4 separate regions of the Homo sapiens genome follow, and regions 2, 3 and 4 are each linked to region 1. Evidence: fine-mapped expression QTL. A gene starts in region 1. Each other region holds a variant in brackets. All regions are shown on one strand. Distances are between the middles of the regions.

Region 1 (8,110 bases):
CAAGACTACAGGAAAAACAGGTTTGGAGGCAGATCAGCAGTCTGGTATTGGACATACACATTTGAGATGATTATTAGTCATCCAAAGAGAGATGTCATGTAGGAAATTAGATATCAAGTCAAGACACACGGGAGAAATCTGGGCTGGAGATATGAAAATGTGAGTGTTGTCAACCTATACATGGTATTGAAAGAAAAGAAGACAGATATTTATGTGCATAGAGACAGGCAAGTGGGTAAGAGGTGGTGGAGGGAGCTTGTGGAAGGTCTCTACTGCATGCTTCAATTTTCCCAGTGGAATGAGAAGCCAGGTTATCCATAGGGAGTTTCTAGTTAAGGGACAGGAGGAATGGCACACGCCTAGCTGTAGAGTAAGAGTGATTCCCAGTAATAACTGCCAGACTACTAGTCTTTATCTGGCCTAAGTTTCCCAGACTCTGGAAGTCTAGGGCTCATTCTGTCAGTGTCTCTCTTTGGTCCACCATCCCAGGCTTCAGTTTTTCTCACCTGTATCTTTGTGGTAGGGTAAACATACAACGTGGCTCTTTCCTAAACAGGGACTTTAGTATCCTGGCTCAGAGAACCTGCTCTTCCAAGTCATTTGAATGTAGCGTGCCTGGAAAGAAGAAGAAGGAACCATAGAGTTCAACAGCTTCAAACCTTGCTCCATGTTTTTTTACGTGAATCCTAGGGAAACAATTTTATTTGTGGTAAAAGATTTATATGTACAGATGTCCATAAGTGTTATTTATAATTTAAAAATGTGGAAACACTCTAAGCATCCCAAGAAGGGGAACTTTTAAATAAATTGTCATACACCTGTAAGATAAAATATTATATAAGCATTAAAAGCAATGTTTACAACAATGCTTAATAACATGGCAAATGACTATAATATGTTAGATAAAAAATTAATATAGAGGTCAGTTGGATTGTGAGAGATTTTCTCACTCTAGGAAGATTCTTCAATCACTATGTCAACAGACACAGATGTTTCCCTTTCTTCCTATGATAAAGATCAAGGATCCAAACTTGTTCGAAAAGTTGAAGAGCCACCATTTGTTCTCACTGGAATGGCAGGCTTTCCAGCAATTGTTCCATAAGGATTATACAAATGGAAGAGCAGAGGAAATGCTAAAAGGTCCCTTCTCCTGATCCACATGTGTTGTAGAAGCAATGACTGTTGGTATGGGCTGTTCTGTGTATTAGGAATTCTGGGCAAAGCCTAAGCCTTGGAAGGAGGATGCTGTCTTGATCTTGTAAGAGGACCTTACTTTAGTTAGACATCTCATTATTGAGGTTACATGTTTATGTTGGAAATAAATTATTTGAGTGGGTTCAGACGATAACACGGTATTTTGAATACTGGCTTCCTTTCTTGCATGCTTGATTTGCCTGGTGACCAAATTACTAGTGACTAGTTCACTAACTAGGTCATTCAGGGAAGTCAAGTTAACACAAAGGAAACATGTCACCTAATTCCACTTGATGATGTTAAAACTTTAAAACCACCTTCTTAGACTGTAAAGATTAAATTAGGACCGGGTGTGGTGGCTCATTCCTGTAATCCCAGCACTTTGAGAGGCCAAGGCGGGTGGATCACTAGAGGCCAGGAGTTTGAGACCAGCCTGGCCAACATAGCAAAACCCTGTCTCTACCAAAAATACATACACACACACACACACACACACACACACACACACACACACACACACAATTAGCTGAGGGTGGTGACACATGCCTGTAATCCCAGCTCCTTGGGAGACTGAGCCATGAGAATCACCGGAACCTGGGAGGCGGAGGTTGCAGTTACTGTACTCCAGCCTGGGTGATAGAGGGAGACAGAAAAGAAAGATGAAAGAAGGGAAGAAAGAAAGAAAGAAAGAAAGAGAGAGAGAGAGGGAGGGAGGGAGGGAGGAAGGAAGGAAGGAAGGAAGGAAGGAAGGAAGGAAGGGAGAAAGAAAGAAGAAAAAAGAAAAGAAACAGAAAAGAAAAGAAAGGAAAAGAAAAGAAAAGAAAAGAAAGAAGAAATTAGTTCTAAAGAAGATAGCTGGCGATCCCTGAAGTATTCCCAGTTTGCTGAAGAATTTCACATGCTTTGTATGTTATATAGGAGTCTTATCTGCCCTGGTTAATCTAACTTTTCTTCTTCCTGTCTTGTGAACTGGCTGTCTCTATTAGAACTTTTCTGAAACGTGCATGGAATACATTAACAACTTGTAACGCCTCTCACAACTCTTAAGTGTATGTATGTGTGTCTAAACCGAATCAAGAAAGCTTACAATAGAGCTTCATAGTAACAGTATTTATTTCAGAATCATAATTGTAAACATGAGAATAACTTAATTATGAACTCCAGTTTAGCTCTTTTATAAGTGCAGAATTATATTTTAGCTGCTGTTATATTAGAATAATTTTTAAATGTCATCCTATTTTAAGCACTCATGCTAAGGTAAGTGAAGAACACTTTTCAAATTTTCTCCAGAAGAATCATAAACAAGAAACTAAACAAATTACCTATAATGAAAGTGACTAATGAGCAAGCGGGTTTGGCCAGATACTATACACAAACTTTGATAAAAGGCAAAATGCTTAATTTATATATATATATTTTTAGATGGGGTCTTGCTCTGTCACCCAGGCTCTAGAGTGCAGTGGCATGATCACAGCTCGCTGAAGCCTTAACTTCCCAGACTCAAGCAATCTTACCACATCAGCCTCCAGAGTAGCTGGGACTACAGGTGCACACCACCACGCCCAGCTAATTAGAATGCTTTATTACACTTGTGAAATTTTCTTGTCTAACCTGAATTTACATTCTATAGTGATAACATAGCATATGTATTGTTATTAAAGTGACTATGTAAAAAAATTAATATAAAACTGTATATACAATATGATTCCAATTTTTTACTTTCATATGTGCAGAGAACACAGAATGAAAAGAAATAGTCCTAATAATTATTTGTCAGTGGTCGACTTGGGTTTTTTTCTATGTTATATAGCTCTGTGTTTTCTAAATATTCAGTCAGAAGCAGATATTTTTCTTATCATTACATGTTTAAATTATGGTGGAGAATTTTCAGCAAATATTAAAATAAGGAACTCCTTGGGAGGCCGAGGCGGGCGGATCATGAGGTCAGGAGTTTGAGACCAGCCTGGCCAATATGGTGAAACCCCGTCTCTACTAAAAATACAAAAATTAGCCAGGCGTAGTGGTGGGTGCCTGTAGTCCCAGCTACTTGAGAGGCTGAGGCGGGAGAACTGCTTGAACCCAATAGGCGGAGGCTGCAGTGAGCCGAGATCGCGCCACTGCACTCCAGCCTGGGCGACAGAGCGAGACTCCATCTCAAAAAGAAAAAAAAAAGGAACTCCTGAGTTATCCCCAGTCCTCCTTGGGTCACTCTGTCCAGCTTCTGATTCCTCTGCTTATTTTAGCTGCAGGCTTTATGAGATCTCCCTAGTATTTGGTACCTCATTCCTGGACTAAGTGGTCAAACGTGTGTAATGGGGCAAAAGGCCTTAGGATGTTGAATAATCGCTGAGCAGGTGGTAAACCTGTGACACTGATGTGATGGATGTAGGAGTGGTCTCCTTGCAGCCCTGGAGCCTTTCATCAGAGTAGGATTTCACCCATCTGAGCTGGCAACAAGCCCTGTTATTCCCAGGACATCTAGAATTCATCAATCGTGCCTGGATTGTTTATTCACTTCACTCATGCTCCTGAATTCTTTGTAGCAGAGTCATTTCCTGTTTAATTCTCTCCAAAGTTTCCCCCTTTGGCCCAGGACTGAAAATTATCTGTTCTACAGTGCATAAAATATTTTTCACAAAGGTAAGCCGTTAGTTATGTATTAGTCTGTTCTGGAAAAAAAAAGTCAAAATAGTTGAGACCTACAGTTAGTCCATGTGATCTGGAAGTGACCAATAGTCATCACAGGGGGTGCACTTACCTAAATCGAATCCGTGTGTATCATTTTCTGCGTTGGTAAGTAGATCCACGTTTTCCTTTGGGAGGCTCACTTTAATATCCTTCTGCTTCTTTAAGATTGGGAAACCACCCAGGCCTCCCAGCTCTTGGCAAGCAACACTCTGACTTCATGTTGTTACTCAGCATTTTGTTCCTTATTGAAATGCCTGGCTCTGCACAACTGGTTTGTAAAGTCTGAAGATCCCCTGGCCATGCCCAGAAACAGCAGCCTCAGGAAGACAGAACTGAAAAGAACACACAGTGAGAACGAGAAGGGCTTTACAGCTCCGGTCAGCCTGACTCAAACCTGTGTTAATAGCCCAGACTCTTGTTGCTCCATCCAGACCTTCCTCTCTCTTCTAGTCACAATCCTACACACCCTTCTAGTAGGAACTCAAAAGCCACCTCACTCAGCCTAAAGTAATCTATCCCTCTTCTGTGTTTCTTATAATACTTTTATTTACTTTGTCTTACAAATTTTCCTTGTATCATACTTACTTATGTATGTATGTCTTCCTACGAGGTTGTAAGTGTTCAGGAAAATTAGAATGATCCAGTTTAGCTTGTACACTTCTCCTTGAGCACAATGCCTTGTACTTATTAAATAAAAATGCTTGAATTGCATGGAATTGAATCAAAATCTAAGAAAATAATCTGCTTTAGAATAGATCTGAGAATGCTGAGTAATGCACAACTCCTGCCTTCTTTGGGGGGACCTGAAACCTTAGGGGGACTTCAATTACTTCTGGATTTGGTATAGCTTCAGCAAAGGCAAGATTTCCCAGGGTTGCTATGGCCTACAGGAATATCAGCCTCCATTGGTCTTAGTGTCTGGCTTTAAATGGTAATGGAATCACACTGATTTTTTATGTTCGTATAGTAACATCATAAAGATACTGAAAATACTGGCAGTATGAAAGGAGAAAAGCAAATTCATTTCTTTTTTGAAAGATAAATCTCATTCATAAGGGATTAAACTTTTATTGTAGATAAGGTGAAATTTGGTAAGTTAAAATGAGAAGAATTTCAAAATGCTTTGTTGGGTGAAAAAAACCTTCTAAAGTAGTATGTTTATTATGATTCTTTTTTTGGTAAAAACAAATTTAAAAAGATAACTTCTATATAAAGTATATGTATACACGCCTGGGGAAAGCATTTGGAAAATTATACAGGCATTAATTTCTCCTACAGTTAAAGTGTCCCTAACAAAAATTGGACATAGCACAATTAGCTGCTTATTGAACATAATTTAATGAATCACTGTTAGTAATAACCAGAACTGACTGGGAACTGGGAAATGATAAAAAGCTGCTGCTTCCCCTGGCTGTAATGGACTGTACTGCAGGCAGACCTGCATGGCAACAGTGATGAGGCATTAGACGGTGCTGAATACGTGGCGGAAAGTGTAAGGAAGTTTGTGTTTCCTTTTGTAGGTTTTGATCTACCTTTTTAAAATTAAAGCTAGCAATAACCAAATACATTTATGGTTATGAAAACAAATTTATTGTTAAAATTACTATTTTTAAAATTCTGTTCTACTGTGAGTTTTAACATTTCTGTTCCCATTAAAACATTTTTTTTTAAAAAAGTTAGTTTTAAATTGCAATTTGGCTTAATTTTAATAGGAGATACACTTTTAAAGGACAAAATCTAAAAGGCACATGCTAGTATTTCTAAATGAGAAATTTTTGTTCCATCCCTATTCCCCAGCCATCCTTCTCCAATTTCAACCAGTGTTACCTGTTTCTTTACATTCTTTTGATAAGTTGAGATTTCTTAGAAATGCACCTATTTTGCAACAGTAGAATAGGCTATATACTAAAATACTAACTGTAGTTATTTTCAAACAACAGGATAATAGGAAATATTTATCTCTTTATAGTTTTCTGGATTATTTTTTTCCCCAGTAAGTAAAAGAATTAAAGATAATTTCTAAAACCATTTTGTTGGACTCTGTGTGACAGCATGCCTAAATATTACATTGTCATCACTTTTTAATTATTCCATTTCTCTGCTTCTGGTCTTTAGTCTTGGTTAACAGTATGGCAATGCAAAAAAAAATTTCCTTTTACCTACTTTCTCTTCCTTCCTCTTCCTCAGTCCATACCTCATGAAAAAAGTAAAATTGCATCAAAGTCATATTCTGAAAAGAAATTTCTTATTAAAATTTTCACTGGGGTTTCTGAATATAATTTGACTCATTCTAATTAAATCAGATTAATTAATACCTGCTATGCTTGGTTCACTAAAGATGTTTTAAGTAACAGCAATAATAATAGCAAATTCTTAGGACACATTTATCTTGCTGGGTTAGGTAGGAAAAGATTATATTTATTTTTTAAATGATTAATGAAATAAAGAAAAGCTTGGAGATTGGAGGTGGGATAATGGTAATTGTCCATATTTACATTTTGAAAATACATATTTTTGAGCTACTTTCACTATGCCTGGAATTAACAATTTTGCTAGACCTTTTCCAGATGTGAGAATTTGATCAATAGCACCATTTATCCATAACTACAATGTATCTGCCTTGGAGTAGACCACCTCGGGCCCAGGAAAACATCAGCTCTGGCCTTGTGGCTATGCCACCTGCAAATACAACCCCAAATTTTCCTTACTGGGTGTTCTCTTCTGTATCCTCTCTCCCTTCCCTTGTTATTTATCTCATTTTTCCTTCTTTCAGGAGGCCAATGTAAGCCTAGAGTGGTAGAGTGGAATGAGCATGGATACAGGACTTTGGGAGCCAGGATTCGTATCTAGTTCTCTGCTAAACTAGGTGTCTTAGGCAAATCACCTCAGTATTCTGGTTTCCTTCTCTTCCTTCTTTCCACAAATATTTGCAGAGCTCCTACCCAGTGCTAAAGACTATTCTAGGTGCTAAGATGTAAAGATGAACAAGACATGACCACTGCACTTAGAGACTGTGTACTTTGTCTCTCCAGCTGTCCCTGAGAAAGCTGCATCTCAAGACAGCAGCTTAAGTGAGTTTGTGGTTCTGCCCACCTGCTGTCTGGCCAGTGAGGAAGTGTGTCTAATGTGGGCACCTACTGGGCTCCTCAGTGGCAAAAGAGGAGCCTAGAGATGGAAGACATGGAGTATAGTAGGGACACAAGGCTCTGTTAGATGGTGTCAGGGAGCAAAAGGTGGCAGCAGTGACAGCAGCAATTTGGCTCTATGCCCTTGGACAATGCAGGGTGTGGCTAGGGCTGCTGTGGTCAGAAGGAAAAGCAACTGTGCTTTTCTGGGTAGAACATCAAGTGAAGACAGTTAGCCGAGGTAGCATGATTTGTTACGATTGACTGTCAGAAAGAGTCACAAGAATGCAGGCTTACCTTGAGCCTTGGGTTAGAAAGATAATGAGTTTGGAAGTCAAGGAGAGGCCAGTGAATTTGATGCAAATCATTTCATGAAATTAAACCCCTTATTCTATGGGACTCTTCTTTCTCTTCCTGGGACTTGGCATTCTTTATGTCTTGACATTTATTGGATGAATGTATGAATGGAAAATCTTCACAGAACTTAAATGTACATTGAGAACACATCACATCCTTGGTGGAAAACTGGGAGGCTGGTAATCAAGAGCTGAACATTTTATTTCATGAAATAATATCACATAAAATGCTATAATTGAGTGAATGGTCTCGTCAACAATTTTACTCATAGAGAGGGCTCACTGCAAGGCCAGATGGAGTAAAGTGGAGAAGGGGAGAAGGCTAGTCCTGTCCCCATGCATCTCAGGGATTCTCTGAGCAAATGACTTCTCCTATAAGCATGAAAACCTAGGAGGGAGATTTTTATTGCCAGCTCACGAAGGGTGCCGGGTGGGGACAGAAAGAGGACAAGGCTTGGAGGAAATGATTAGAGAGTGAAATTTCATTTTCACATTTTGCTGCTTATTTTTGGCCAAGACAAACACTTTCTGAGACTCAGCTTCCTTTTCTGTAAAATGTCACCTCCCATCCCCTTTTCTGAATTTCTTCCTATTAGAGGTGGGGTCCCTAGGACCCTGGGCAGTGGACTGTTACTGGTCTGTGGCCTGTTAGGAACCGGGCCACACAGCAGGAGGTGAGCAGCAAGCGAGTGAGCATTACCGCCTGAGCTCTGCCTCCCATCAGATCAGCAGTGGCATTAGATTCTC
Region 2 (8,110 bases), 70 kb before region 1:
CTCTCATTCTGTTGTTTTTTTCCTCTATTTCAATTTGACTGGTATCTGGGTTGTTTTTTTTTTTTTCACGGATAATTTATCATCTGTTGTTTTTAATTGAACCATTTTCACAGCATTTCATCCCTTAATACCTTAATACAAGCAGTAAGAACAAAGTCATTCTCCGCATAACTATAATATCATCATCACTTCTAAGTAATATAACATTGATTTAATATCATATAATATATTGTCAAGGGCCAAGGGAAAACTTCTGTCAGGCCTCTGAGCCCAAGCCAAGCCATCACATCCCCTGTGACTTGCACATATACGCCCAGATGGCCTGAAGTAACTGAAGAATCACAAAAGAAGTGAATATGCCCTGCCCCACCTTAACTGATGACATTCCACCATGAAAGAAGTGCAAATGGCCGGTCCTTGCCTTAAGTGATGACATTACCTTGTGAAGTCCTTTTCCTGGCTCATCCTGGCTCAGAAAGCACCCTCACTGAGCACCTTGTGACCCCCACTCCTGCCCGCCAGAGAACAAACCCCCTTTGACTGTAATTTTCCTTTACCTACCCAAATCCTATAAAACGGCCCCACCCTTATCTCCCTTCACTGACTCTCTTTTCAGACTCAGCCCACCTGCACCCAGGTGAAATAAACAGCCATGTTGCTCACACAAAGCCTGTTTGGTGGTCTCTTCACACAGATGTGCATGAAATTTGGTGCCGTGACTCAGATCGGGGGACCTCCCTTGGGAGATCAATCCCCTGTCCTCCTGTTCTTTGCTCCATGAGAAAGATCCACCTACAACCTCAGGTCCTCAGACTGACCAGCCCAAGGAACATCTCATCAATTTTAAATCAGGTAAGCAGCCTCTTCTTACTCTCTTCTCCAACCTCTCTCACTGTCCCTCAACCACTTTCTCCTTTCCACTCTTCAATCTCTCCCCTCTCTTAATTTCAATTCCTTTCATTTTCTGGGAGAGACAAAGGAGACACATTTTATCTGTGGACCCAAAACTCCGGCGCCGGTCACGGACTGGGAAGGCAGCCTTCCCTTGGTGTTTAATCATTGCAGGGACGCCTCTGTCATTATTCACCCATGTTTCAAAGGTGCCAGACCACGCAGGGACGCCTGCCTTGGTCCTTCACCCTTAGCAGCAAGTCCTGCTTTCCTGGGGAAGGGGCAAGTACCCCAACCCCTTCTCTCCTTGTGTCTACCCCTTCTCTGCTTTTCTGGGGGAGGGGCAAGTACCCCTCAACCCCTTCTCCTTCATTCTTAGCGGCAAGTCCCGCTTTTCTAGAAGAGGGGCAAGTACCCCAACCTCATATCTCTGCACCCCAATCCCTTATTTCCGTGCCCCAACCTCTTATATCTCTGTGCCCCAATCCCTTATTTCTGTGCCCCGACCTCTTATCTCTGCACCCCAATCCCTTATTTCCATGCCCCGATCCCTTATTTCCATGCCCTGATCCCTTATTTCTGTGCCCCAACCCCTTATTTCTGCACCCCATCCCTTATTTCCATGCCCTGACCTCCTATCTCTGTGCCCCAACCCCTTTTCCCACTTTTCTGGAAGGTAAGAACCCCCGAACCCCTTCCCTCCATTTCTCTACTCTCTCTTTTCTCTAGGCTTGCTTCCTTCATTATCATCAACCTTCCACCCTCCATTCCTCCTTCTACTCCCTTGGCCTGTGTTCTCAAAAACTTAAAACCTCTTCAACTCACACCTGACCTAAAACCTAAATGCCTTATTTTCTTCTGCAATGCCGCTTGACCCCAATACAAACTCGACAGTAGTTCCAAATAGCCAGAAAATGGCACTTTGAATTTTTCCATCCTGCAAGATCTAAATAATTCTTGCCGTAAAATAGGCAAACGGTCTGAGGTGCCTGACGTCCAGGCATTCTTTTACACATCAGTCCCTTCCTAGTCTCTGTGCCCAGTGCAACTCTTCCCAAATCTTCCTTCTGTCCCTCCCGCCTGTCCCCTCAGTACCAACCCCAAGCGTCGCTGAGTCTTTCTAATCTTCCCTTTCTACAGACCCATCTGACCTCTCCCTTCCTCCCCAGGCTGCTCCTCGCCAGGCCGAGCTAGGTCCCAATTCTTCCTCAGCCTCTGCTCCTCCACCCTATAATCTTTTTATCATCTCCCCTCCTCACACCTGGTCTGGCTTACAGTTTCGTTCCATGACTAGCCCTCCCCCTCCTGCCCAGCAATTTACTCTTAAAAAGGTGGCTGGAGATAAAGGCATAGTCAAGGTTAATGCTCCTTTTTCTTCATCCCAAATCAGAAGCGTTTAGGCTCTTTTTCATCAAATATAAAAATCCAGCCCAGTTCATGACTTGTTTGGCAGCAACCCTGAGACACTTTACAGCCCTAGACCCTAAAAAGTCAAAAGGCCGTCTTATTCTCAAAATACATTTTATTACCCAATCTGCTCCCAACATTAAATAAAACTCCAAAAATTAAATTCCCGCCCTCAAACCCCACAACAGGATTTAATTAACCTCGCCTTCAAGGTGTACAATAATAGAAAAAAGTTGCAATTCCTTGCCTCCACTGTGAGACAAACCCCAGCCACATCTCCAGCACACAAGAACTTCCAAACACCTGAACTGCAGCGACCAGGCGTTCCTCCAGAACCTCCTCCCACAGGAGCTTGCTACACGTGCCGGAAATCTGGCCACTAGGCCAAGGAATGCCTGCAGCCTGGGATTCCTATTAAGCCGCATCCCATCTGTGTGGGACCCCACTGAAAATCGGACTGTTCAACTCACCTGGCAGCCACTCCCAGAGCCCCTGGAACTCTGGCCCAAGGCTCTCTGACTGACTCCTTCCCAGATCTTCTCGGCTTAGCGGCTGAAGACTGACACTGCCTGATCACCTCGGAAGCCCCCTAGACCATCACGGACGCCAAGCTCCCAGTAACTCTCACAGTGGAAGGTAAGCCCATCCCCTTCTTAATCAATATGGAGGCTACCCACTCCACATTACCTTCTTTTCAAGGGCCTGTTTCCCTTGCCTCCATAACTGTTGTGGGTATTGACAGCCAGGCTTCTAAACCTCTTAAAACTCCCCATCTGGTGCCAACTTAGACAATACTCTTTTAAGCACTCCTTTTTAGTTATCCCCACCTGCCGGGTTCCCTTATTAGGCTGAGACACTTTAACTAAATTATCTGCTTCCCTGACTATTCCTGGACTACAGCTATATCTCATTGATGCCCTTCTTCCCAATCCAAAGCCTCCTTTGTGTCCTCCTCTTGTATCTCCCCATCTTAACCCACAAGTATAAGATACCTCTACTCCCTCCTTGGTGACCGATCATGCACCCCTTACCATCTCATTAAAACCTAATCACCCTTACCCCACTCAACGCCAATATCCCATCCCGCAGCACACTTTAAAAAGATTAAAGCCTGTTATCACTCGCCTGCTACAGCATGGCCTTTTAAAGCCTATAAACTCTCCCTACAATTCCCCCATTTTACCTGTCCTAAAACCAGAGAAGCCTTACAAGTTAGTTCAGGATCTGCGCCTTATCAACCAAATTGTTTTGCCTATCCACCCCACGGTGCCAAACCCATATACTCTCCTATCCTCAATACCTGCCTCTACAACCCATTATTCTGTTCTAGATCTCAAACATGCTTTCTTTACTATTCCTTTGCACCCTTAATCCCAGCCTCTCTTCGCTTTCACTTGGACTGACCCTGACACCCATCAAGCTCAGCAAATTACCTAGGCTGTACTGCCGCAAAGCTTCACAGACAGCCCCCATTACTTCAATCAAGCCCAAATTTCTTCCTCATCTGTTACCTATCTCGGCATAATTCTCATAAAAACTCACGTGCTCTCCCTGCCAATCGTGTCCGACTGACCCCTCAAACCCCAGCACCTTCTACAAAACAACAACTCCTTTCCTTCCTAGGCATGGTTAGCGCGGTCAGAATTCTTACACAAGAGCCAGGACCACACCCTGTAGCCTTTCTGTCCAAACTTGACCTTACTGTTTTAGCCTAGCCCTCATGTCTGCGTGCAGCAGCTGCCACTGCTGTAATACGTTTAGAGGCCCTCAAAATCACAAACTATGCTCAACTCACTCTCTACAGTTCTCATAACTTCCAAAATCTATTTTCTTCCTCATACCTGACACATATACTTTCTGCTTCCCGGCTCCTTCAGCTGTACTCACTCTTTGTTAAGTCTCCCACAATTACCATTGTTCCTGGCACGGACTTCAATCCGGCCTCCCACATTATTTCTGATACCACACCTGACCCCCATGGCTGTATCTCTCTGATCCACCTGACATTCACCCCATTTCCCCATATTTCCTTCTTTCCTGTTCCTCACCCTGATCACGCTTGATTTATTGATGGCAGTTCCACCAGGCCTAATCGCCACACACCAGCAAAGGCAGGCTATGCTATAGCACAAGCCACTAGCCCGCCTCTTAGAACCTCTCATTTCCTTTCCATCGTGGAAATCTATCCTCAAGGAAATAATTTCTCAGTGTTCCATCTGCTATTCTACTACTCCTTAGGGATTCTTCAGGCCCTCTCCCTTCCCTACACATCAAGCTCAAGGATTTGCCCCCACCCAGGACTGGCAAATTAGCTTTACTCAACATGCCCAAGTCAGGAAACTAAAATACCTTGTAGTCTAAATAGACACTTTCACTGAATAAGTAAAGGCCTTTCCTACAGGGTCTGAGAAGGCCACCACAGTCATTTCTTCTGTTCTGTCAGACATAATTCCTCAGTTTAGCCTTCCCACCTCAATACAGTCTGATAACAGATGAGCCTTTATTAGTCAAATCAGCCAAGCAGTTTTTCAGGCTCTTAGTATTCAGTGAAACCTTTATATCCCTTATGGTCCTCCATCTTCAAGAAAAGTAGAATGGACTAAAGGTCTTTTAAAAACACACCTCACCAAGCTCAGCCACCAACTTAAAAAGGA[T/C]TGGACAATACTTTTACCACTTTCCCTTCTCAGAATTCAGGCTTATCCTCGGAATGCTACAGGATACAGCCCATTTAAGCTCCTGTATAGACGCTCCTTTTTATTAGGTCCCAGTCTCATTCCAGACACCAGACCAACTTAGACTGTGCCCCAAAAAACTTGTCATCCCTACTACCTTCTGTCTAGTCATACTCCTATTCACCGTTCTCAACTACTCAAACATGCCCTGCTCTTGTTTACACTGCCGGTTTACACTGTTTTTCCAAGCCATCACAGCTGATATCTCCTGGTGCTATCCCCAAACTGCCACTCTTAACTCTTGAAGTAAATAAATAATCTTTGCTGGCAGGACTATGCTGAATCTCCTTAGGCAGTCTCTAATCAGATATCCTGAGTCATCCCAATTCTTAGACCTTTTATACCTGTTTTTCTCCTTTTGTTATTCCATTTAGTTTTTCAATTCATACAAAACCGTATCCAGGCCATCATCAATCATTCTATATGACAAATGTTTCTTCTAACATCCCCACAATATCACCCCTTACCACAAGACCTCCCTTCAGCTTAATCTCTCCCACTCTAGGTTCCCACGCCGCCCCTAATCCCGCTTGAAGCAGCCCTGAGAAACATCGCCCATTCTCTCTCCATACCACCCCCCAAAAATTTTCGCTGCCCCAACACTTCGACACTATTTTGTTTTATTTTTCTTATTAATATAAGAAGGCAGGAATGTCAGGCCTCTGAGCCCAAGCCAAGCCATCGCTTCCCCTGTGACTTGCACGTATATGCCCAGATGGCCTGAAGTAACTGAAGAATCACAAAAGAAGTGAATATGCCCTGCCCCACCTTAACTGATGACATTCCACCACGAAAGAAGTGAAAATGGCCGGTCCTTGCCTTAAGTGATGACATTACCTTGTGAAAGTCCTTTTCCTGGCTCATCTTGGCTCAAAAATCACCCCCACTGAGCACCTTGTGACCCCCCACTCCTGCCCGCCAGAGAACAAACCCCCTTTGACTGTAATTTTCCTTTACCTACCCAAATCCTATAAAACGGCCCCACCCTTATCTCCCTTCACTGACTCTCTTTTTGGACTCAGCCCACCTGCCCCCAGGTGAAATAAACAGCCATGTTGCTCACACAAAGCCTGTTTGGCGGTCTCTTCACACGGACGCACATGAAAACTTCCCCTTTGCCTTCTGAAGTTTTGCTGATAATCACTGACAAGAGGTAGATTAATAAAAGAAAGGGCATACGAATTTATTTGATCATGGTTTTAGGTGACACAGGAGCCTTCAGAATGAAGACCCAAAGATATAGGGGAAACTGTCCATTTTAATGCTTATGTTCAACATGATTGGACAAAAAGAGAAAATCCGATGCTAATAGACTGAGTGGGAAAACCCAGTAAGGCCTGTCTGTTCATATTCTTGACCTCTTTGAGAATACATTCCTTCCTTCTGAGTATAGGGCCAGACCCCCTCTGGAATAGAGGTCTTATGACCTACAGTCAAACAAAGTTGGTCACATAGTTTCTTAAGGACCAGTTTTTACAAAGAAAGTTTGAGGGGAGGGTTAAGTAACATTTTAGGTTTTATGGCTGGCTTTGAGGAAAAGGGGTTCTGGTTTCTATGACCTTCTTTGGGGAAGAGGGATTCTCATTTCTGTAACTAACCTCAAGGAAGAATGGGACTGAGGACAGGAGAGCAGGAAAAGGTCAGAGAAATGCTTTTCCTTCTGAGGCTGCTTCTGAGGTCTTCATTTGGGAGTATTGCTTTCTAATCCCAACAATATTATATCCAAATAGATCATATTCAAACACCTCAATTGTCCCATAGATTTTTTTCAACTTTTTATTTTTGTTTTTGATCCAAGATCCAAACAGCTTCATGCATTATATTTGCTTGTACAGTCTCTTAAATTCCTTTTGATTTAGATTAGAACATTCTCCCTGCTTTTCCACCTCATTCCTCATCACATTTTCTTTTAAACATCTAGGAGCATGCTGGGTGTGGTGGCTCACACCTGTAATCCCAGCATTTTGGGAGGCCGAGATGGGTGAATTGCTTGAGCTCAGGAGTTCAAGACCAGCCTGGACAACATGGCAAAACTCCATCTCTATGAAAAATACAAAAATTAGCCATGTGTGGTGGCATGTGCCTGTAGTACCAGCTACTTGGGAGGCTGAGGTGGGAGGATTATTTGAGTCTGGGAGGTCAAGGCTGCAGTGAGCTGTGATCATGCCACTGCACTCTAGCCTGGGTGATGGAGTGAGATCTTGACTCCAAATCAAACAACCAAAAATCCCAAAAACCATCTAGGGCAGTTATCTTGTAGAATATACCACAATCTAGATTTTACTAATTTTTTAAAATCCTAGTTTGTTTCAGATTTATGTTTATTTAAACTGAAGCTATTAAACGTGATTTTGGGGAGGAATTGCTACCATGAGCCAAAAATCTTGGAGCTAAACTGCATTATAAACTTTCAATTAGACTAAATGAAATTATCTAGAACCAAGGTGGGCAAACTACTGCTTCCCATAGGCCAAATCTGACTCACCAAATCTTATTAATAACATTGTGTTGGATCTCAGCTACACCATTTCTATGTAAAATATGTAAAAGATATGGCTGCTTTCTACTTTCCTTCTATGAAGGCAGATTTGAATAGGTATAACAGAGACTATGTGGCCTGTAAAGCCTAAATTATTTACTATCTGGCCTGTCAAAAAACAGAATGACAACAAATTCAGTTTAAAGATCTAATTTGTTTTATTTGTGATTCTAGAACCACATAAAACCTCATTCTGTAAAATAGAATAAGTGCTCCAATGAGCTGAGCAGAGGAGCTTAGCTTTATAGACAGAAAGGGGCTGAAAAAAGCAGAAACAGAGCGAAAAGTGGAATCGTCATTTCAACGTTACTTTCCTTGTAAATGTTAAAGTCGAGGGGACTTCTTTATCATGCAGCTAAAACTGGCCTATTTGGAAAATTGGCTGTTATCTCTTTCTGCCTCCGGATTTCTCAGATAAACATGTTGGTTTCATCTTGGTGGCATGGAACTTCAGCATGAGTGACTACATTTTGGTTTGGTCTGTTGGGCCTAGTACAAAAGCTCAACCCAAACCAATGGCCTTCTATAAATTTTATCCTTT
Region 3 (8,110 bases), 38 kb after region 1:
TGGCTTAGAAAGGTAATTGCCTGAAGTCCAATGCATACAAGGCAAAACAGATGTGAGTAGAAGGGTTAGAGGGTTACCTCATTGGGGCTTTTTTTTTTTCTGCAGAATTCTCTTGTGTGATCACTACTGTGTTCAAGTTCTCACCTTCTTCAAACTCACTCATGCACAGGTAAGGTTTTTTTGTTTTGTTTTGTTTTTGAGACGGGGTCTTGCTCTGTCACCCAGGCTGCAGTACGGTGGTGTGATCATAGCTTACTGCAGCCTCAAACTCCTGGGCTCAACTGATCATCCCACTTCAGTCTCTTGAGTAGCTGAGACTATAGGTGCACACTACCACACCCAGCTAATTTTTAAATTTTTCGTAGAGACAGAGTCTCCTGATGTTTCCTGGACTGGTCTCAAACCCCTGGGCTCAAGTGATCCTTCTGTCTCAGCCTCCCAACATGCTGGGATTAGAGGTGTGAGCCACTTTGCCCAGCCACAGATAAGTTTTAAAGTCCAGATGACCCGGATCTTAAGCCTTGGCTTTGCCACTGTGTAACCCTGGGCTGGATACCTAACCTGAGTCTCATTTTCCTCACTTGCAAAACAGGGGAAATATTGACACATGTAACCATGCTTTGTTTCAGAAAGTACTTAATACATAAGTGGTATAACAACTCTGAGGATGAATGAGATCTAAAATAAAGATTCACTGTATTAAATGCCTTTTATGTGCTGAGCACTGTTCTAATCTAAGCACTAGGCATTGAAAACTACAGTGGCCCTGGGATGGGATAAATTCTAAGGCAAAACAGTGGTTAAGAGCCTGGACACTGGAGTTGGACTACCTGGCTCTTACAGTGACAAGTTACTTAATTTCTCTAAGCTTCCATTTCCATTTCTATATCTGTGTTGGTATCTACATTGTAAGATGCCTTGAGGATTAACAAATTAAAATATACTACACTGTTTAACATAGTACCTAATACATAGTAAGCACTCTATGAGTATTAACATTGATTTATTGCTTCGTGATATACTTACTCACTAAATCACTTACACTAAAATCGTGAAGGCATACTTGACTGACACTTGGTAACTTTGAATACCATGTTTACTCAATTTTATCTCCCAAATATTTAAGTAGTTGTTTTCATTATCTCCTGCCATCATCTTAGTTATGACTGACATTTATAGTATTGATTACAGAACTAACTTGCCAAATGAGCTTCCTGACTCAAGCAATCCTCCCACCTCAGCCTCCCAAGTAGCTTGGACCACAGGCATGTGCCACCATGCCAGGCTAATTTTTGTATTTTTGGCAGAGACAGGGTCTCACTAGGTTGCCCAGGCTGGTCTCAAACTCCTGGGCTCAAGCAGTCCGCCTGCTAACCTCCCAAAGTGCTGAGATTACAGGCGTGAGCCACTGCACATGGCCAGTACGATCATTTCTATTCTGGTCCAGGAAAATAACTCTAACTGGAATTTTTTTCACTTTATCTATTTCATATCAGTCAAGGTATTTCATATTAGGTCCCACTCAAAGATGGCATGATGGATTCTTTAAATGCATAGTTTTGCCAACTCAAGAGAAAAGGAAACCTTAGAGGCTTGATTCTAAATGCCCATTCTGGGAAAGTAGTATTTAGCATGAAGCAACCATAATTCATGCTTGCCATTCAGACAGGAAGTGGTTAGATTAATCCTTCAGCAGATGTTTTCTGAAAGCTGAAATAACTTATCATGCATTACCACTCCTATAGCTTGATCACAACTACAAAGGGTAGGCCAGGGTCACATACATCTTCATCTTATTCCTTTCTTTCAAAAAAGTGTGATTAACAAGGTGATAAACTGAAGCAGTAACAGCTTCTATACAGAAACATGTTTTAAAATATTAGTTGTTGGCACCAGGCATCAAACAATGTTGGCAAGCTCTGAAAGCAAACAAAGAAATTACTTTTAACAAAAGCAACAATTTTTATTATCTTGCTTTATATTTAATGGAGTAGAACTATAAAGATTCTTAACTTTGAAAGCAGAAATATAAGTTGGATAGTAGTTGCAGATCTTTAATACCATTTTCAATTTCATTTATGAGCTGCTACATTATAAATGAGATGCTCTAAAATAATAATCGCTTTTGTTGTTGTTGTTATAGAACAATGAAAATTCCTGTTAGGAACACAAGTTGCTGTTTATATTTGCTTGTTCTCTTAAATAGTATGAGAAGAAGTAAGGTGGAGCTGTTGGGAAAGCCCATCGTGGACCTTTGGAGATTATCTTCTTGGTTCAGTCATCTCCACCACAGATTTTTAAGAGTGTGATTTCATAGTCTCCAGAAGTATCCGACTGCAAAGAATAAAATCAATGAAGAACAAATACAGTATAAATAATGGGAGACCATAAATGAATCAAATCCTATAGCACTAGGGAATTCACCTGGGTGTGAGACTCATGAGCTATACCATTTAGTAAAACATACCTGCAATTCCATCATTCATTCATACCTGAGTGTAATTACGTTCTGACCAGCATCTTCTTCACTGTAAGTAATATTTAGATTCTTCCTGATATACTGCAGTTAAATTTCAATTTTGGTTTAATAAAATAAGATTGCATCACTTACATAATATTGATTTCTATAAAAACTTCAAATTTTAGTTTTAATAATATTTATCGAACACTTGCTATTCAAAAGGCTTAATGTGTATTAACTACTTTAACCCTTTTAAAAGCTCTCTGCAATAGGTACTATACGTATCCCCCATTTAACAGATAAGTAAAATGAGAAAGACAGGTTAGGAAACTTGCCTCAAATCTTATCGAGAATAAGTGACAAAAGCAGGATTTGAATCCCTATATCCTGGCTCCTTAATACCCTGCTACACTGCCTAACTTAGGAAAGTGAAATGAACCACATTTTTAAAGAATATGTTTATCAGTTCCTTTTCCCAAGGCCAACCAAAAATAGACTGTTGTCCAGAAAAGATACTACGTGAGGTTGAGGCTTAAAGGGCAAAGATACCAAGTTTGTAACGCAAAAGACTTCACAGGAGGTAAAACTTGGCTTTCAACCTGGATTGTGTAAGATGCTCACATTATTTTTATTTTATTTGAGGTAACCCAACCAGTGAGCTCTTCTTATCACTTAAGTTTCACATTTGGAATGGCTGTTACTGGGGTGAATATTAGAGAAAGTGGTAATATAAAGGAAGTCTCAGAGAAGGCTCATTTAGTGAAGAAGTTAAGCATTACTTTCATAGTAAGACACAATAGGC[C/A]TTTATATATATTTTTCTGTTTTCTTTATTTCTTGTTCATTTGTCTGTTTCACAAAATATATGACAATATTCTTCGTTTTTATATAGATTTTAGTTCTTATGCTATTGGTTTTCCTGTCTTGCTCTGCAATAGCAGAGCTGACAAGTCAACAATGCTCCAGCTTTGTATTAAAAGAGCTCCTTCTAGACATCTCTGATCAGAGTTGTAAACAATTAGGCGTTCTACCAGTTAGTCAAGAAAATACATCCAAGTAACTCAAAGTATATTTACACCGCTAATGACTTACTTGACCTCTCCACATGTCTTACATGGCTCAAAGACATCTCAAACTCAATACATGTAAAACCAAACTCATAAACCTCCCCCCACTCCCCCAAAAGAAAAGGAAACAAACAAACAAACAAACAACCTAAAACCTGATCCTCTTGCAAGGAATGGCGCCACTGTCTGTTTTCCAAGTTAGGAACTTGAGTGTCATCCTTGCTATCTTCCTTTCCTCACACCAAGATATTATACCAAGTCCCTTAAGTTTCAACTCCTAAATATCTTTTGAGCCCTTCTTATTCTCCAGAATAAGAAGATCTTACAGGGATCTTTTCATGATCCTGATACTAACTCTTCAAGAGCTCATGCCCAGAACTCTTCAATGGCTTCCCCTTACTCTTAAGCTAAAGCCAAAATTCCTTAAACATTGCCAAAAAGGTCCTGCATGATCTGGCCCCCACATCCTCATTTTTCATTATGCTTCCTCCACCATGAGGCCTTTCCATTTGTCATTTCTTTTATTAGAATGTTCTACTGGCTCCCTTACCTCCATACATTTTGCCTTATTAATATCTACTTATTTTCCAGATCTGAATCATGACTTTCTCATAGAAGCCTTTCCTCTAAGTCAAGTCCTACTATTGTAGGATCTTTTAGCACAATGTCACTTTCCTTTACATTTAACATAGTTGTAATTCCATAAGGGCAGAAAATGTCTTCCCCCACCCTACCCCCTTTGCTTATAATTGTAACCCTGAGCCTAGCACATAATATGCATTTGATAATATTTTTAATTGAATGAGTGAATTCGCTGATCTCAAAGCTCTCTTTCAACTGAACTCATCTTGCTACTTGGATTTTATTTCTCAATATTCCCCAAGGTAGACCCTCTAATCAAACAAATGCCTTATTACTTCTTTCCCTCTTGCTTCTTCCCATATCTGTCTCTAGAGCATTTACTTTTAAGACCCTATTGATCTGGGGTCTTAAAGGTAAATGCTCCAGCAGAGCACCTGGCCCACAGGAGACACTCAACACATGCTTGTTGACCTGAAAGGCAGGCTCAAGACCCATTTCTCTAACCCCAAACTTCTTTTCTTCTCAATTCCGATAGTACTAGCTCTATATTCAACAATCTAGTATTTAATTGTCTGTTGTTTCAATTATTATCTTCTAATTGTTTCTTCATACCTACCTCAAGTCTCCACATAGATTATGAGTTGATTGTGAGTGGCTACTATATTTTCCCATAAAAAGCTTGGAATTGTGCTATTTATTAAATAAATACAGAATTTGTCTATGAAGGAAAACTACCAAAAAATATAATTTCATCTAAATTTTCCATAATATCTTCTTATAAAGTAGTAAGAGGTACACATTGGTTTTTCACCTCTGTTCTTCCTTGCCTTCTCCTTCCCACCGGTTACCCCCTGAGAAAGGTGTCAATGGACAAAGAAATGTCTAAACAATAGGTGGAAGGAAGAAAACAGGCAGGATGACAGGCTGAGATGATATGCAAAATGGAACTCTATCCCATGAATTTCAGAAACAACCATCTAAAAAGATCCTGTTCTTCAATAGCAAAAATGTAATGAGATTACTTAATAATATGTGTTAGGTGGTAGAAATAAAGAAATCTTGTACTATTTCAAACTGCAAACTGAAGTTTTCAGTGATGGATTTTTCTTTTCTATCAAACTACAAATAGTTTAAATGTTTTCTAATACAATAAGCCTCAATTACCCAGACCACTGGGGAACGGAGAGCCACTGGTTAATTTAATTTTCTGGTTTGCTGAGGGTGAACTGAAAGCCCTCTTTATGTCTCAACCTTGTTACTGACAATCTTTAGAAAATGTGTGAGTCTATTTTTCTGCCTTAGTAGCTACAACATGGTTAATGTTATTGAATCTTCCTCTGATGATTGAAACTATTGTGATGTGTCAGGACTGATTCAAATAGAATTGAGTGTGAGCAGTTGATGCAATTTGTGCTAAGTCCCAGGCACAGTCTGAGAATTGCCTTTTTGAGTAAGTTCCTGATTTCAACTTATGCATGCATCTCAGCATCTCTTTCTGTAAAAGTTTAGTGCAAAAACAAAAACTCTGATTAAAAAGAGAGAGAGAGAGATTTTAGTGAATGAATCTAGTTGACTGATTGATGTTCATTCATTCATTCATTCATTCAAAGGCCATTTGTAAAGTCAGAGGCAGAAACCTTCCCAAGATAGCTGCAGAAAGACCCAGGCTAATATTTGTGCCTGTTCAAGGGTGGCTATTGTGGGTAGGGCCATAGCGAAGGTTGGACCAAAGACTCCAGCTGCTGGCAGGGACACTGGAATGTGGTCTAAGCCAGGTGTCCCCAGGGGACATCGCTGAGTGTAAGCTCCCCCACAGAGGTAGTGCTCCAGCCTTGTAGGGGCTTGAGAGAGGGTGCTGCTACCCAGGATCAGGATGTGCATGGTGCATAATGATCCACAGCTTAGGGGGTCTAATCAGCATGGACTCCATTCCCAGTTTTAGACCCTCAGCACTCAGAGCAAACACTCTGCTTGGCTGCTGCTTCCCTCTTCATCCTGGATCACCTTCTAGGCCCCAAGTCTCAGCTTAGACCTTGGAGAGTTCACCTGGGTCCAATACTCTCTAGTGCTGATTTCCTCGAGACATTCAAGGGTAGATGGAGTAGCAAAGAGACGGAGAGGTCTGCATAGCCTGCAAGTCCTCTGCGAAGGCAGCCCTGACTCTGTCTTTTCCCCTGGTCAGTGTGGCCTTGGAGGCAAGGACAGTGGATTGCTCCACTCACCAACCCCAGCTTCCACTTTGTTCCAGGGAACCAGCTTGGACTAACACTCTCTATCACTCATTTACTAGAGACTTTCATATGTGGTCTGGAGCATCAAGGTAGAAAAGTAAATCAATGGAAGGCTACTGAGCAGGTGTGGGGCTAGCCCCTTAGTTCTCCACTAACTAGTTGCCATCTTCCTGTTGGGACTATGACTTTTGAACCACGAGCTTAAGGTACAGAAGCCTCTTGTACAATTTTTGTCAGGCTTACTGCCCTATTAATTCAAATAATTTGTAATTTATTTGAAGTTTCTATGTATAATATATCAACTGAGATCTGAAAACAATGAAAATGGGTTTCATGCTTTAAAAGAGAAAGGAAGGAGCCCATTTTAGGAAGATTCTCATCCAGAATGAAAGAAACAGAAGGGACCAGATTTTTTAAAAACTAAAATACTGTGAAAGATTGATAAATTTAATTAAATAAGATGTGCAACCTCTGCTTGGAAAAAAATACTTTTGGCCAAGTCAAAGGACAAAGAACGGACTGGGAAAATATGACCAGACAAAAGGCTAATCTACCTTATGTGAAAAACGTCTTAGAAACTGACCAAAAAGAACAAAAACCCAAAAGAATGTGGACAAAGAATGTAAAAAGACAGATCACAGAAAGAGAAATACAAATGTTATTTCAAACATGAAAATATATTCAGCCTTACTTATACTAAGAAAAATGTATATTACAACTACACTGAGATACAATTCCTCACCTATCAGATTATGAAAACCCAAAAGTTTACCTATAGTCCCAGCTACTTGGAGGCTAAGGCAAGAGGACTGCTCGAGCCCAGGAGTTCTAGGCTACAATGTATTATGATCGCACCTGTGAACAGCCACAGCACTTCAGCCTGGGCAACACAGCAAGACCCCATCTCTAAAAAATGTTTTAAAAACCTAAAAGTTTGAAAATACCCTCTGTGCCAAAGCTATGGAGAAAGAAGTTCTCATACATTCCTCATGGAATTGCAAAATGGAATTCAATTAGTAATATTTGTCAAAATTTAAAATGCATTTATATCTGTCTCAGAAATCCTACTTCTGAGAATTCATCCCAAAGATACACTCGTACCTGATGAAGTTGTGTATGCATTATACAACATTGTTTGCAATAGCAATAAACTGGAAGCCTCTGTTTGTTGTGGTGGGTACAAATATACAAACAATGGAATGATATACAGCTGTTAAATAAAATGAGAAAGTTTCCTATATACTGAAATGAAAAGCACTCTAAGCTGCAGAACCATGCTGTCTCATGTAAAACAGAGAGGAAATTTAAAATACGTATTTTTCTTTTCTTACATTGTCATAAAGACTGAAATAAATAAAAACAGTGCAATATAAAAAACAGGTAAACAACTTGCATATGTAATTCACAAAAGAAGAAAAATTAGTGGCTAGTACACCTAAAAAAATATTGAGTGTCTATTATATGCCTGGGATTTTAGAGCTGAAAATAAGGGATATTTTGCTGCTACTATTTTAAGCTCAGACAACACATTTATACATTGACAAGGAGAGAGAAATCTAAGTCAAATATCTTTATATTTTAAGGCATATAAGAGTAAGGAGATGGGTAGAGAAGGGCAAAATATGTTTTGCTATTTTTAAAAGTAGACTTACTTTAATTGCTGAATATAGGGAATAGCCATAATGCTTCTTGAACTCTGTTCGAATGTCCAAAAGGTCAATTTCTGATCTGGACACCATTATTCGGTTCAGAGTAAACTCATCAGTTCCAAT
Region 4 (8,110 bases), 260 kb before region 1:
CACATTAATTCACATATGTAATCTCTATCATTAAATGATTTCTATAAAACCTCAAGTTTCTAATTAGGATTTGTGGTGTAAAAAAAGGCAAATTGGTAGCTGGGTTCTTTTCAGTAAAGACACAATCAACTAGCAGAATTAAGATGCTAGTCCACCTTATATGCATTTTAGGATCTGGTATATTAGTGCAGAGGTACTTGCAGCAGGATGCATGAATCCTGCCTTTATATAAGGCTTTGTGGGTGTCACCATTCTGTGCACTTTATTAAAACTACTCCACCCCCCAAAACCTAATAAAAATAATTGTTGCTTATGACTTGGGGAATATTTGGTGAAGTTGCTAATAAAGTACATTGTTAAATGCAACATGATTTCACATTGTAAATGTCTTGAAAATTCAGTTTCCGCTACATATTTTCTTCATAAAATAAAATTTTTATACAACCCTTGTCCTCCAATTTTTCCAATAATCTGCTTTATTAGGGCCATCACAATAAAAGTTTGGGGCAAGAAGCCATGCATAAAGTGTTTCTAAAGTAGTGAATGTTTTCTGTTCTGTATCTTTTTTTCTTCTTATAATTTCTTTACAAATGTCAGATATTTCTCTTCATATTTTTGTTCTAGGCTTCTGTGCGACGATAGTCCATTTTTTTAATTTGTTTTAACTGACAAAAATTATATATATTTATCATGTATAACATTGTTTTGGAATATGTAAGTTGTGGAATAGTTAAATTGAGCTAATTACACATTATTTCATATGCTTATCATTAGATATTCCATTTTAATGGCACTTGTTTTTAAAAATGAAACAGAGTTTTAGGCACAATAGTCAGTTACTTCTGGCTCTGCTTTGTGGAGAAAGGTGTATGGACTGAAATCTCTGCACTCTCCAGATAATAACTTTCTAATGCTTTAAGATAACTAGATTGTTTTTAACTGTCTGGAAATTAAAAGAGACCTTAAAAAAAATTCACAAGTGTAACTAGTGTATGTAGAAATAACCCTAATTTTAGGGATATGCACATAAAAATGACATTCTGATATCAAAAATAACAGTTTCACTGTCCCTTCTCAGTGGCTACACACCTAGAAAGGTGCCATGTGCTTTCACTGGAAGTACCACACTTGCATTTCTGTGTTGTGATGTCAGTAGCAGAAACCCTTAGTTAGAGCTTGCAATTTAGCTCCCTTTTCTCCTGAAGAGGAATCAAGTTACTACCCTGTAGAGATACTTCATTCTTCTATTTGGTTTATTTAGAAATCACCTATTCTGACTGATCTTTAAGAATGAATGCTATAAAGAGCTACCAAATTTTCTTTCAAATTCATAAAACTGTTCACACTTTTTTGAAACAGGAGTTAATGCCGAGAATCCATCAGAAGTATCTACTGTTTAGAAGGAAATGGAGCAGCACCAAATGGGTCTAATTCGACTGGTTGGGACTGTTGGGACTGATGTGGAGTGATGCTTTGCACCACAAGTTCTGTAAAGGGCACGGCACCAAAATCATCCATTTTCAATACATCTGCACTATGGAATGACCCATGTAGTGAATTTTGTCTTGGCCGCCCTGGCAGGACAGTATTGTGATCAGCACGGATGTCGCTCAGGCCCTGATGTGGAGGGTGCCATGACAGGTCTGGAGAATGGAAGGGCTTGGCACCGAAGGGGTCCAACAGGCTCTCCTCAGGTTGTAAGACATTCCCCCTATCTTTCCCATCAGTCAGTGCAACACTAATGTTCTCCTTGGAGTCTGAGATGGTTAAAAATTCATTGCTACTTTGAGAGTCTCGGCGGCCCACTTTTTTGTGCCTGCGAGCCCTCTCTGGAGTGCGATAGGTAGGCTTCAAAGTCTTCTTTGTGCTAGTTGGCGTGCCATGATGCCGCTTCCCATTACTTTTGGACATATCCTGCTTTGTGCGCCTTTGGCGAGAGGACAGTTTCTGTAAGCTGCGCTGTTTGACTTTTTGCTGCTGGCTCCCCGTTATTTCATCAAAGGGCACAAGCCCAAAAAGGTCCTCATTGCTTTCACTTTTACTTGTTGATGTGAGGAAGGGCTGAAATGGAGTGGAGCCAAATACATCTACACTTTTGGGATAACCAGGGATAGTATGTGCCTCAGGCCCCACTGCATGGCATTCTTGTACATTCACCTTCTTGCTAAAAGGCGCCTTTGTGAATACATCAAATTCCTCCTGCTCCAGTCCTGCAGCAGGAAACCTGTGTTGAGGGAGGTTCTTTTCATTCTTTTCTTGCTGGGGCTGTTGAGCACGCACTGCAAAGAAGGGGACAGCGCCAAATACATCAAACTCCTGTTTGGGAGTCTCCACTGCAACATCAGAGGATAATTGGGCTGAGGTGAGGAGTATTGTATTAAGATCTTGGGTTGGTCCACTGCCAGATCTGTCTCTGTAGACAGAGCTCATGTCACTGTACTTTGCTTTAGCCTGCTCATAATCAGAATCAGAGCTATGTTTCTCCTCTTCTTCCTCATCTTCAGAATCCATGAGGAGAGGCCTATGACCCAGATTTTCTGGTTCAGTATCATCATCATTAAAATCTCCTTGTTCCCCCTGAAGAACTTCTTCATCATCTTGCTCTTCCTCTTCACTGCTCTTAGGAGAAGGGGGATCTGATTCAAAATCACTTTCAGATTCATCATTCCCCTTTTGCACTTGACCCTGTACTGAGGTTTTCTTTCCAGTCCGCTGATCTTTAGATGCTGGACTTGTTTTACCGTTCTTGATAGGGTTTGCAGTGCCATTTTCTTGATTTATAGATGAATGTTCAGCTTTCTTTTCAGGAGAACCTGCAAGTTCAAATAAATATTATTACAGCATTCCAATGCATTTCAGAATCCTCTTGCACTAAATGTTAATATGTATTACACATGGCATTACAAATCCCTCATACGAGTTCCCTTAGAGGAAAAAATAATGTTGTCAATTCTTCGTCATTAGACTTAGAGAATGCATTTGACCTCAGGTAGATAGTTAAGTCTTAATGTAGACAGACTTATTCATATCTGGACCCTACACCCTGCCTCATCGTACTCTCACTGACAGCCAAATTTTATTTATAGCACACAGAATGTAGTAGACTAGCAAATTTTCTTCACCCCACCACCAAAATAACATTATTCTGCTAATTCTGAAAGCTCAGATTTCACATTCACCAAATACCTCCTGCTTATATTTCAACTCTTGTAAAGTTTTCCCATAGAGATCAACAAGCATGAACAGCCTGCCTGCTCAGTTACGTATTTGTTTCACTATTTTTTTAAATCAGCATTGTATTTTTTATAAACCACTATCTTTTGAATTGACTTAGCATGAATGGCCTCACCAAAGCTAAGGACCAGATACTAAATGGAGACTGTACCAAAAACATCTGCCTTCTCTAGATGATATGACTTCCTTTAATTATAATATCTATACATTACATTAAAAAAGCGAGATTCCTTTAAAAACAAATCTAAACCATCTGGAGATGTTTTTAGCTCAGAATCCATTCAGTCACTTCATTTTCTGAGTTCATTCAACGAAAGAAATATAGGGCACTTTGCTATACACTGATTATACATTGGTGAGTAAAAGAAACATGGTTTCTGCTTTCAGGGGTTTACAGTCAGAGGTTGTAAGTAAACATAAATTGTGACTAGTGCTCTGAAATAAAGGACAGCAGGGAAATGGGCGCATAAACCTACTTTGGACAGTGGTGAAGACCTCCCTAAGGAGACGACAGTTAGGATTGAACAATGAGAAGGAGCCCAGCCATGCAAAGGATAAGCTGGAAGCAGCTTCCAATAAAAGCAATGGCATATATAAAGACATATTTAAGGGGCTGAAAATAGGCTATTGTGGCTGGAATATAGTGAGCAAGGGAGGATCAGGTACAACATGAGGTAAGGAAGACTGGAAAAGGCCAGACTGTGAAGGTCCTCTAAGGCCATGATAAGCAGCGTATATTTCATTATACATCTAATTCAAAATTCCATGTATAATGGAAAGCTATTATTAAAATAGGTGTCATGATTAGGTTTACATAAAAAAAAATGACTGCTCTATAGAAAAACACTAAGGGGGCTGGGTGCGGTGGCTCACCCCTGTAATCCCAGCACTTTGGGAGGCCAAGGCGGGTGGATCACGAGGTCAGGAGTTTGAGACCAGCCTGGCCAACATGGTGAAACCCCATCTCTACTAAAAATAGAAAAATTAGCCAGGCATGTTGGCAGGTGCCAGCTGAGCCAGGAGAATCGCTTGAAACTGGAAGACAGAGGTTGCAGTGAGCCAAGATCGCACCACTGCACTCCAGTCTGGGCCAAAGAGCGAACTGTCTCAAAAAAAAAAAAAAAAAAAAAAAAGACTAAGGGAAGGTAAGAAGGGGAGTTCAGGCAAAAGGAAATTATAGTAATGCAAGTTAGAGATTTTGGTGGCCTAGATGACATGACAGTGGTGGCAGGGTGGGTCAAAGTAGAAAAAATAGAGATTGAAAACTCTTGGTGGATGGCAGCACCATTAACAGAAAGAAAAGAATGAGTGGCGTGATAGAAACCCATTTACCCTGATGTGATTATTATGCACTGTATACCTGTATCAACATATCTCATGTACCCCATAAATGTATATACCTACTATGTACCCACACACAAATTTTAATGAGCATAATTTTTTAAAAAATGAGTAAGTTGGAAAGTGAAGAGGAGTACTAAAAATTTTGTTTGGAGACATTAAGCTTGACATATGTGTGAGACAACATTTAAGTGTACAG[C/G]AGTTAGGTATCTGTGATTTGAAACCAATGGTTAGTTTTTGGCTGAAGAAAATAGATTTGGGAGTTATCACCATGCAGTTGGTATGCAGAGAGAGCCACAAGACTAAAGGGCATACCTCGGAAGAAAACATAGAAGAAAAGAAGATCCAAAACTGAGCCCTCAGTATAAAACATTCAGAAGTCAGCAGAGGAAGATGAACATACAAAACAAACTACAAAGTAACAGCCAGAGAGGAGGAAGAAAACAGCTGAGTGCAATGTCACAGAAATGGAGAGAGAAGAATGTTTGAGGGAGGTAACAGACAACTGAGCTGGATGGTGCAAAGAGGTCCAGTAAACTAAGGACATAAAATGGCCACTGGATCTGGTCATCTTGTATAGTTTGTTGGCAATGTTGACATGAGTAGTGGTGCTAAAGAATGTGTGGGAGACAAGTATGTGAAGAATACCACCAGGTTATACTTAATTGCAAATATAATCTTCTGTCAGTTCCTTAAAACCAGCCAAGAGCTACATGCTGTATTTGTTATCCTTCCAGATTAAAAGCAAATCAAATGCAGATTCTCAAGTTTGACTTCTTCCCTACACAGCGTATTTATGATATTAAAAACAAAGTTAATTTTAGTGAATTTATTTTTATGAATTTTTATTCAAAAGCAAAATATGGGAAGAAGGGAAAAATGAAAATAAAATATGTACGGTTCCAGAAGATTTCCCATCATCCCTGACTGTGAAACGTTTAACGTATTACTCCTCGAGCTGCATACCCACCCACAGCCACAACATTCACACCTCACGCCTGCTCACGGACACCTCCAAGTAACATTCCAATGTTGCCCAAAGTGTATTCTGCAGAGGCTATTTCCCTAACAAGAACCAAGACAAACAGTTCTGTGGTCTCAAGCAAACAAGTCTATGAAATGGTGCACTCTGCATTCTGCCTCCACTCCTACTCACCTGGAGTATGCTCATTAAAGGTGCTAATGAGTCCTACACAAAAGAATCTAATTTTATGAACCCTAGGATTTCCCAAATTGTCTTCACTACCCTTTTATTTACATGTAATGCCTGTTAACCTTTAAAACCAACTATGCAAAAGTACTTTGGGGAAATGCTGCTATACAACTTATCTTGAAATTTTCCATTTCTAGTTGTGTTCCTGAAGGTCTTCTGGAACATTTAACGTAGGACAGATAATTCATCTTGGAGAGTGTCACTTGGAAGTGAATTTAAATTCGCCTTCTTTTTAAAATTATTACATTGTACTCCCTAGTCTTCTTAAAATTTACTGTTTTCATTATTCAACTGGCTACCATTACTTTTCAGAAGACATCTGTCACTTTATACTTCTCATTCTGTTGGCCCTTTGTCCATTTATCAAAGTTGTATTAATAGAAATACACATTTATAATTGTCAGTGTGGGTATAAATCTGTGGGTTTTTAACTTACTATTTTTAATGCATCTTTTCAGGTATCAACAGTCTATTATTTATTCTGATAGAAATATGATAAAATATTCCATATATAACTGTTCACTATTTAGCAATAGAATATTTAGGTTGTTTCTAGTTTTTCGGCATTTTAGATACAACCATGATTCATGCACTTTTTCCTTCAAGGAGTAAAAAGGAAACCCTCCTTTTTTAGTATCAATTTCACTTTATTTATATACTATGATTCCCTCCTCATGGGTAATTAACACAGCTACTAAAGCTAACCCAATAATAATCCTGACAAGGTCACCACTATTCCACTTTCTTTATACACAAAATGGGATAACACATTTTATATCATAGAGCTATTGTGAAGAAAGGACTTAGAACGGTGCCTGAACACATAATAAGCACTCTACCATCATCATGTCCTGGGAATGGCCAAATTCAATTATTTTATCCATCATACCCAATAAGCTTCTAGTAACTTTTCTGGGCCCAGTGGTTGCAGGTGAATATAAATGAGGGAGAAGTGTAGGGAGAAGCAAGTCTATGGCTAATTCAAGAGGAGCTGAGATCCACTTCAGAACTGACCAGAAGTAAGTAGACCAACAAATGTATATCCACACAGCATAAGGGTACATTTTAGATCCTGGAAATTCTATTTTTGATTTTTAGACAGCTATATTTGAGAACACAGTATAAGAAATGGAAACACACTTTCAAAAAGAGCAAGAAAAGACACAATCATCTATACCACCTTTGTGCTTTCAGGTTACATCTGCAAATAGTACGGGCAACTGGGGAAATTTTCTGTTGGTGTAGATAGACTGGTTTTACTTATTTTGCCCCCCTACATAAAACTAAAATAACAATCAAAAATATTTATCCAAATTCCTGTTTTCTCCCATATTCTTGCAACCCACACTGACATTGTTTAAATATTTCACTCTACACTTTTACTGCTGTTATAAACTTATAAAAAGTAAAGAGCAGTAATGAGGCTCTCTGAAAGCATACTAAGACAAACTATTAATCCTTTTATCTCTCCAGTACCTCCTGCTGAGGAAAAGTTAGGTTCCAGGCTGCAAGTTACCACAATCCAAGGTAAGTTTCTGCAGTAGCAGTGATCTACTTAATCATCTATTCATCATGAAACTACAGAAGAGCTGGGAAAGAAAGGTGAATTACACAAAAATAAAAAGTATTTCAGTATATTCTAAGGCTTTCAGTCCTATTCCATAGACATAAAAGACTGTCAGAATAAGTATTTTAAGTTATAAAGTTGGTTATAACTATACAATGCACAGCACTTTAGAATGTGACCTCTAGCTAAGAATGCCATAAACCTTCATACTCCATTTCTTTGCCTAAACATATTCCTATAATTTAAAAAAAAAAATTTCAGATCTTCCCACTATTTGTGTCTGGGGCCAGATTCCCACTAGTTGTTAGATTAAATAATACACATTTGATTTACTATGAAATTTAATCAGGATTATTTCACTGCTAAAGTTAATTTCCCAAAAGTATAAGCCTAAATATGTTGCTTTATAATTCAATATACCCTAAATCCTAATAATCCCCATATTTACTGAGATCTGTATTATTAACATAAAAATAGCTGTTCTTCAAGTAGGTGGGAGATGGGGGTATAATATTTAGAATAAGCACTAACAACATGTATTTACAGCATTAAAAACTGTGTAGATGGTGCACAGAATCATAACTCATTTACATTATTTTAGTATACTGTGAAATTTCATATATTCACCCACTGTTTTTATTTTTGGCTCTAAGTAATGTATTTCTTCTTTTTCTTTAACTAAATATGGTAGAATGATATTTTGATGGTTTCTAGTCAAGATATTCTTTATTTCTGTTTTTGTGCTTTGGAACTAC

What was found. PIP is the estimated chance that this variant, and not a neighbour inherited with it, causes the effect.
Region 2: its variant is fine-mapped to the expression of LINC01094 in whole blood (TOPMed, PIP 0.93).
Region 3: its variant is fine-mapped to the expression of LINC01094 in whole blood (TOPMed, PIP above 0.99).
Region 4: its variant is fine-mapped to the expression of LINC01094 in whole blood (TOPMed, PIP above 0.99).

The regions. Positions count from the first base shown.
Region 1 is chr4:78,642,106-78,650,215 of GRCh38, reverse strand. It overlaps LINC01094 (long intergenic non-protein coding RNA 1094), which reads right to left and starts at 4,222. Exons shown (of 3, transcript NR_038308.1): 1 at 3,953-4,222. It also overlaps the pseudogene HIGD1AP13. RefSeq lists an enhancer at 3,386-4,585.
Region 2 is chr4:78,711,866-78,719,975 of GRCh38, reverse strand. LOC101928893 (a long non-coding RNA gene) reads right to left here and starts at 3,895. Exons shown (of 3, transcript NR_188357.1): 1 at 3,841-3,895. RefSeq lists enhancers at 320-890, 891-1,462, 4,213-5,159. The variant T/C (reference allele first, on the strand shown) is at 4,953.
Region 3 is chr4:78,604,280-78,612,389 of GRCh38, reverse strand. It overlaps ANXA3 (annexin A3), which reads right to left. Exons shown (of 13, transcript NM_005139.3): 12 at 7,991-8,110; 13 at 1,943-2,334. The coding sequence ends at 2,275. Among named protein-coding and RNA genes, the nearest start is that of LINC01094, 38 kb to the left of the region's middle. The variant C/A (reference allele first, on the strand shown) is at 3,264.
Region 4 is chr4:78,905,313-78,913,422 of GRCh38, reverse strand. BMP2K (BMP2 inducible kinase) reads right to left here. Exons shown (of 16, transcript NM_198892.2): 16 at 1-2,813. The coding sequence ends at 1,390. PAQR3 (progestin and adipoQ receptor family member 3) reads left to right here. Exons shown (of 6, transcript NM_001040202.2): 6 at 1-1,545. Among named protein-coding and RNA genes, the nearest start is that of PAQR3, 30 kb to the left of the region's middle. The variant C/G (reference allele first, on the strand shown) is at 4,775.